2 linked regions of the Homo sapiens genome follow. The protein of the gene in region 1 purifies or fractionates together with the protein of each later gene. This does not show direct contact. Each region holds a gene or a part of one and is shown on either strand. Other genes may lie near its edges.

Region 1 (3,819 bases):
GTACTAAGTGCATGATGTTGATTTCTTGGCAGATTTTATGTATCATCTCTCAGCTGGCCTTTAAACGGCCACTGCTTCACCTGGCACCCATAATCACTATATAACCTCTGTCAGATCCTTTTCTCCTTTTTTTTTTTCCTGTGAGCATTGTGTTTACTCTGTGTGCTGGCAGCAGAAACCAGAAAGGAAATGCAGAAAAAGCATCTAACGGTTTTCATAACGTAAACCAAATGTTGGGAGTGTGGGTGAGCTCGTGGGAGGAAAGGCGCTATATAAATCTGACAAATAAATAAATAACTAGTTCTTTAAATAAACTGGCACCGAAAAAGCCTTAAACTGTGACCTATTGAATTTAGGCTTATTCGGAGTCAGAAGTCCCTTTGCTCACCAAATGTGAGTTCCTTACACGTGCACTCTGTTGGGCTAATGGTGGGAGTGGATGGAAGGGAGGAGGTTAAGGGGAGGAAGAGGAGGTTTGGTAGGAACCAGGCTGTGCCTTCACTGAAAGTGATTGCCTGCCTTGGTAAATTAGAGGCATCTTTGTTGTAGCTGTATTATGTATACAACACATTCTTAGATACTTCAAAAGGACTGGAGAAGGGAGGGTGGTTCAAGTGAAGGTCAGTGAGTAAAGTTCACAGGATGTATTTTGAGGACAAGGACTGAATGACTTCACTAATCTCTGCACATAAAAGACATTATCAGCAGCAAGCTCTGAGAATCTTTCTTCCAAATATGTTGGCTTTGTGACCTACCCCTGAGATCCCCCTTGGCCACTCCTGCTGTCTCAAGACAAACCAGTACGGAACAATCCCAATTATAGAATCTGTTCTGCAGATCACAGGCCTCTAAGCTTTGCGCATCCTTAAAGTTATGCCGCGGGGAGGGGATGAGGTTGCTGGCTAGTGCCCATGTGGAAGTACCTTTTCCTGAGGAGGCCATACCAGGCCAACTCTAGAGTTTCATTCTGGAAGGTGAGAAAAGATGAGCACTAAGCGGAAGTGAGGCCACCAGCCTGCCAGCTGCAGAGGCTCTGGTTACAGAACTGAGCGGCACATGCCATCTCGGAGCTATCAAAGGAACTGATTTCTGGAGGTCACCTTCGAAGGTGCTGGGATGGTGGCAGAGGGGAAAGGGAGAGAAAATGGAAGGCGTTACTACCATTCCTTTCAAGTAGCACAAGATGTGGGCACTTTACAAAAATAAGGCCTTAAGAATATCTTCGGCCGGGCGCCGTGGCTCACACCTGTAATCCTAGCACTTTGGGAGGCCGAGGCGAGCAGATCACTTGAGGTCAGGAGTTCGAAACCAGCCTGGCCAATGTGGTGAAACCCTATCTCTACTAAAAATACAAAAAAAAAATTAGCCAGGCATGATGGCAGGCACCTGTAATCCTAGCTACTTGAGAGGCTGAAACAGGAGAATTGCTTGAACCCAAGAGATGGAGGTTGCAGTGAGCCGAGATTGTGCCACTGCACTCCAATCTGGACAAGAGCGAGACGCCGTCTCAACAAAAAATAAAAAGAATACCTTCATCAGCTGGGTACCGTGGCTTTTGCCTGTAATCCCAGCAAACTTTTGAGAGGCTGAAACAGGCAGATCACTGAGTCCTGGAGTTCAAGACCAGCCTGGCCAACATGGTGAAACCCCGTTTCTACTAAAAATCGCAGCTACTTGGGAGGCTGCGGCAGGAGAACCACTTGATCCCGGGAGGCGGAGGTTGCGGTGAGCTGAGATCGAGTCACTCGAGTCACTGCACTCCAGCCTGGGTGACAGAGCAAGACTTTTTTTTAAGTCTTTTTTTAGACTTTTTTTAAAAAAAAAAAAAAAAAAACAACTTCGTCTCTCTTTTCTGAAAGAATTCCCTTTAGGTTTGCGGCATGCTGCCGGTGCCCATGTTCTAAACGTCAAGTGTAAACCTGAGACGGGAATTTACACTTCTTCAAAGACCATTGAAAGGTTTCTTGAAGAAGTTGTGCCGTAAGGCATTCAGCGCCCCATGAAAGGCTATCAGCCCACTGAACCTTCAGTAGTTGGTAAAACTTGTTTAAGACATTGGCCAGGTGGATTCTGAGGCTTTTGATGTCTGGGATAAAAGGATAAGTACATGTAAATTGCCCAGTAGTTTTCATATTATAAAATGATCTTACCGTGCTGCTTTAGGTAGAGTAGTAAAGGCAGTATATTGTGCTGTGCTATACCCTGATGTAAACAGTGTTCTATCTGTACACAGATCTCTTCAGTTTAAGATTGTAAATCTTGATGTTCTAGAAATCTGCTGACCACCTGTTCCCACACATTGATTCAAATCAAATTCAAACTATTTTATTAAAGCTATTCAAGAATTCTTTGAATTAATAGAATTCAAGCTAAAAGTAGAGAATAAGACCTTAATATTACAGGATTGTATTATTTTTCCTTGAAGCTTGGCTCCTACTTTCTAACTGAGGGTATATATTCACAAATGCTTTTCTTTATACACATAGATTAGTGCTTCCTGTCTGTTTCATGGACTGAGAGTTCACACATCTCCAGCCTTCCACAACCACCTTCCTAAACTCTATAGTCTGTCAATTATGGCTGTGGCAGAAACCATACTTTACAGACATGATTGTATTTCACCATTTCAGGAGCATTTGGAGGATAATACATCCCCATGTCACAGATAAGCAAACAAAGCCAAGAAACTTTGCCTTTGGTCACTTCCCTACTAAGGCACGGCAGGCTTTCCCTTCTACACTGCACACCCAACAGGGAAAGGGCAGCTGGCACACATCTGGATTTATCTGACAGCTGAAGAGTGTTAAGGAAACTCGACTAGTAGCAACAGGTTTTTATTCTATCTTGTTAAAAAACAGTGCATATTTATTATCAAACTATAGATGAGCAAAAAAAGAAAATCACCTAAAATTATAACCACCCCACAGATAGGCAGTGTTAATATCTAAATGTCAGTCTTTCTGTGGTTTTATATGACACCATACTACTACTTTTATTTTTGCTAAGCTTTGATACTCTACGTACTGTTTAGCAACCTTCCTTAATATGTCAAAAATACCTTTCCAAGACCTTATATATTTACATATTATGTAATTTCTAATGGTTGCTTTCAACCAAATGACTGTATCATAATATATATAGCCAGTTTCCTTGTTAGACAGCTGCATTGGTGACCATCTTTGTAGTTATACCTGATCATCTGTGACTGAATTGCTGTTCAGGTACCTGGCACAGAATTAGTAACTGCCTGCTCATCTTCCAAGCTAAAAGGAAAAACACTTCTCTTCTGACTTTGTTACTTTTTTAATTACTAATGAGTTAAACTTTTTGTTTATGACCATTCCTATTCTGTAAGGATATTCCTGTTTATGTCCTTTGCCCATTTTTTTCCTCTTGAGATATTCATCTTTTGTTAATTTCTAAAAGCTCTTTTTGCCAACAGTGAGATTCCTGTATCTGTGGAGATTTTTCCTCAGTTTTACTTTTGGTTTTGTTTCTGGTGTTTTCTGACTACTGCAGATTCTTTCCCCCTGGTTTGATGTGTTTCTTTTGGTTTTGTTTCCGATGTCTTTTTAAGTTATAGAAATTTATACAGTGAGGTATATCCAGGTTTATCTTGATGATTTCTGCTGTTGGTATGATACTTAGGTTTTCCCTCACTCCCAAGTTTTGTAAGTTTTCATATATATTTACTTTCATATGATGGTTTCACTTTTTTTTTTTTTTGAGACAGTCTTGCTCTGTTGCCCAGGCTAGAGTACAGTGGCGCAATCTCGGCTCACTGCAACCTTCACCTCCTGGGTTCAAGTGATTCTGATG
Region 2 (3,819 bases), on another chromosome or scaffold:
GCATCTGTGGATCTGCCAGACTGTTTTCCACGGCAGCTGTAACATTTCACATTCCTGCCAGTGTGGTAGAGAGTTGAGGCAGATGGGGTCACTGGGTGGAAGCCACGATTGGAGGGCTTCATTCCCGTCCCTTCCCTGCAGGCTGAACTGGAGAATGTGTCTGGGGCGCTGAACGAGGCTGAGTCCAAAACCATCCGTCTTAGCAAGGAGCTGAGCAGCACAGAAGCCCAGCTGCACGATGCCCAGGTGACCCTGCCTGCCCTTCGGCTCCACCGTCACCCTCCCCTCCTTGTCCTCCCAGCCACACCTGACATTGCCGTCTCCTCCATCTACAGGAGCTGCTGCAGGAGGAGACCAGGGCGAAATTGGCCTTGGGGTCCCGGGTGCGAGCCATGGAGGCTGAGGCAGCCGGGCTGCGTGAGCAGCTGGAGGAGGAGGCAGCTGCCAGGGAACGGGCGGGCCGTGAACTGCAGACTGCCCAGGCCCAGGTGAGCAGCCCTACGTAAGACCTTCAGGGAGGCACAGCCCCCCTCACTGCTCCTCCTGGGTTCCCCAGCTCAGGGATGGCCATGCTGCCCACCTTCTCATAGGCCAGACCCATGGGTGCCTTTCTCATCTCTGACTCCCCCTTACCCCCCACAGCCCATGCCCAGCCCTGGCTGTCCTGACCCCTGACTCTCAGCCTCATCCCTTGTCCCAGCTCCAGCTCAGCCCCAGCTCCAGTGCCGTCCTCTCCCATCTAGATCCTCCTCTTGGCCTCTGGGCCTCCAGCCTCTCCCCTAACAGCTCATCCCCTGCACAGCCCCAGAAGCTTCTTTCTTTACCTGGAGCTGACCCTGTCCCTCCTCTGCTCACAGCTCTCCCACGCCTCCCCAGTACTCCTAGACAAAGTCCATGCCTCTCAGTCAGGCATTGAGGCCCTGCAATCTCTGGTCCTTCCTCTGCCTTTAGCTGTATTCATCTCTATCTCTACTTTCCTATTTTATTTGAAAAAAACCTTTTATTTTTCCAGACTTAGCATTAGGCTCCCCTGTGGGAAGTTTCCTGACCCGTCTTCTCTTTCTCCTCTGTCCCAACTCCAGTCACCTTGGGCTGGGACTGTCTCTGCCCATGAGTCTCCCCACCAGACTGAGAGCCCCTTCAAACTAGAATCCCATCAGAGTTAGATCCAGGTCTGTAGCACAGCCTGATATAGGGCCTGATGTATGGTAGGCGTTGAGAAATGCCTATTGAATGAATGAGTGATGGTACGTGCCTGCAGATATCCTTCAACTGGCAGACTTCTATGCATACTTCAAGACCCATCTCAAATGCTCCTCCTTCAGGAAGTTTCTCCTGAATGTTCTAAACAGATTCTGGGCACTTCCTGTGGACCTCCATAGCTCCCATACTGCTACCTTAACCCCTATCACCCTGGCTGTGACTCTGTGTCTCCCCCAGCAGCCGAGGGGCTCCCCAGGAAAGACTCCAGGTCTGATTCACCTCTGCATCTTGGAGGGAGTAATTTTAATTCCCTGGAAGAACTAGGGCTCATAGTATTCACAACTTCACACCACTCAGAGGCAGAAGAGCCCAGCAGAATGACCCCTTTCCCTCTTCAGGCCTCAGTCTCTTCATCCTGGAAATGGAGCACCACCAGCTTACACCTTGGTCACTCATGGCCGTGACCACCAACCACCCTCTCTCTCCTCCCCTCAGCTTTCCGAGTGGCGGCGGCGCCAGGAGGAGGAGGCAGGGGCACTGGAGGCAGGGGAGGAGGCACGGCGCCGGGCAGCCCGGGAGGCCGAGGCCCTGACCCAGCGCCTGGCAGAAAAGACAGAGACCGTGGATCGGCTGGAGCGGGGCCGCCGCCGGCTGCAGCAGGAGCTGGACGACGCCACCATGGACCTGGAGCAGCAGCGGCAGCTTGTGAGCACCCTGGAGAAGAAGCAGCGCAAGTTTGACCAGGTGGGGCACCTCAGTTCACCCAGCCGGGGAATCAGCAAGTCCATCTACGCTTCCCATGGTCGTTGTGAGGAACCAGTAATCCGTGCTGTCACGGCTCAACTAGGCAGTTGTAGTGGACCAGGAAGCAAGACCCTTCTTTGCTCTGGGCCTCTGTAAAATAGGACATCCCTCTGTCCTGATTCATGCCTCTTGCCACAGCATAATTCCTCGTAGCACCCACTTTTACTTTCAGAGCTGCCCTGGTTTTTGGATGACAAAATATACGAATACCTTCAGTACCCCAGAGATTGCTTATGAGAATTAAATCAAATAACTCATCTCACTTCTGCTGATTCACGGGGTACCTCAGGCAAGTTGCTTTTTCCATCTCAGCTTCAGTTCGCCCATCTGGAAAATGGCAATAATACCAAGCATCTGGCAGCCTGAGGATGAAATAAAAATCACAGAACCTTAGAGAGTTCAGATCAGGCAATCCTGAGGTTCAGATCCCAATTCGGCCTCTTGATGGCTGTGTGGCTTGGGCAAATTGCTCAACCTCTCTGTGCTTTATTTTATTCATTTAGAAAATGCAGTGTGAAGCTGGGCACTGTGGCTCATGCCTGTAATCCCAGCACTTTGGGAGGCCAAGGCGGGCGGATTGCCTGAGCTCAGGAGTTCACAACCAGCATGGGCAACACGGTGAAACCCCGTCTCTACTAAAATACAAAAAAATTAGCTGGGCATGGCGGTGTGCGCCTGTAATCCTAGCTACTCGGGAGGCTGAGGCAGGAGAATCACTTGAACTGGAAAGGCGGAGGTTGCAGTGAGCCAAGATCGTGCCACTGCACTCCGGCCTGGGTGATAGAGCAAGACTCCATCTCAAAAAAAAAATAAAAAATTAAAAAAAATTTTTTTAAATTGTCATTTCCCTGTAGGTGGTGCAGTATGTTTTTCTAGCTGACTTACGATTTCTCTCTTTATGTTTGGTTCTTAGTGGTTTGACTGTGATATGCCCAGCTGTGGGTTTTTTGTATTTATCCTGCTTTAGATTCACTGTGCTTCCTGTAGCTGTGGGTTGATGTTTTTGATCAAATGTGGAACATTTCAGCCATTATTTCTTCAAATATTTTTATCTCCCACTCTCTCTCCTTCCCCTTCTTCTTGGACTCCAAATACATATGATTTGATTGTAATACTCTTCCACAGGTCATTGAAGCTTTATTATTTTTGGCATCTTCTGGAATTTTATATAAATTATTTTCACATAAATCTCTTTTGGGATGGGCTTATTTTACTCAAAATAATTTTTTTTTTTTGAGACAGAGTCTCGCTGTGTCACCAAGGCTAGAGTGCAGTGGCACGATCTCAGCTCACTGCAACCTCCACCTCTCAGGTTCAAGCGATTCTCGTGCCTCAGCCTCCCAAGTAGCTGGGATTACAGGTGTGCACCACCATGCCTGGCTAATTTTTGTGTTTTTAATAGAGACGAGGTTTCACCATTTTGGCAAGGCTGGTCTCGAACTCCTGGCTTCAAGTGATCCACCCACCTCGGCCTCCCGAAGTGCTGGGATTATAGGAGTAAGCTACCGCACCCAGCCTCAAAATAATTAGTCTGAGATCCATCCATATTTTTGCATATCAATAATGTATTCCATGTATCAATAATGTATTTTTGCTGCTGAATATTATTCCTGTGGTATAGATCAGCCACATTTTGATATTCATTAACCTTTTGATGAACATTTGGGTTTTTTTCCAGTTTTTTTCTAGTTATGGATAAAACCTTAGTCTTTCTCAAAGGTGGTTTTAATTAACATTTCCCTAATGACCAGTGACGTTGAGCATCTTTTCATATGCTTATTTGCCATCCATATATCTTATTTGCTGAAGCTT

Evidence for each region.
Region 2: the proteins of ETV5 (region 1) and MYH14 purify together in Homo sapiens (affinity purification with mass spectrometry, with the first as the bait; one large-scale study listed by BioGRID). This does not show direct contact.

Annotation. Positions count from the first base shown.
Region 1 is NC_000003.12:186,067,517-186,071,335, reverse strand, and holds part of ETV5 (ETS translocation variant 5), read left to right. Parts: intron 1-3,819. UniProt on the Homo sapiens protein: Binds to DNA sequences containing the consensus nucleotide core sequence 5'-GGAA.-3'.
Region 2 is NC_000019.10:50,279,896-50,283,714, forward strand, and holds part of MYH14 (myosin-14), read left to right. Parts: intron 1-141; coding exon 142-246; intron 247-335; coding exon 336-488; intron 489-1,698; coding exon 1,699-1,947; intron 1,948-3,819. UniProt on the Homo sapiens protein: Cellular myosin that appears to play a role in cytokinesis, cell shape, and specialized functions such as secretion and capping.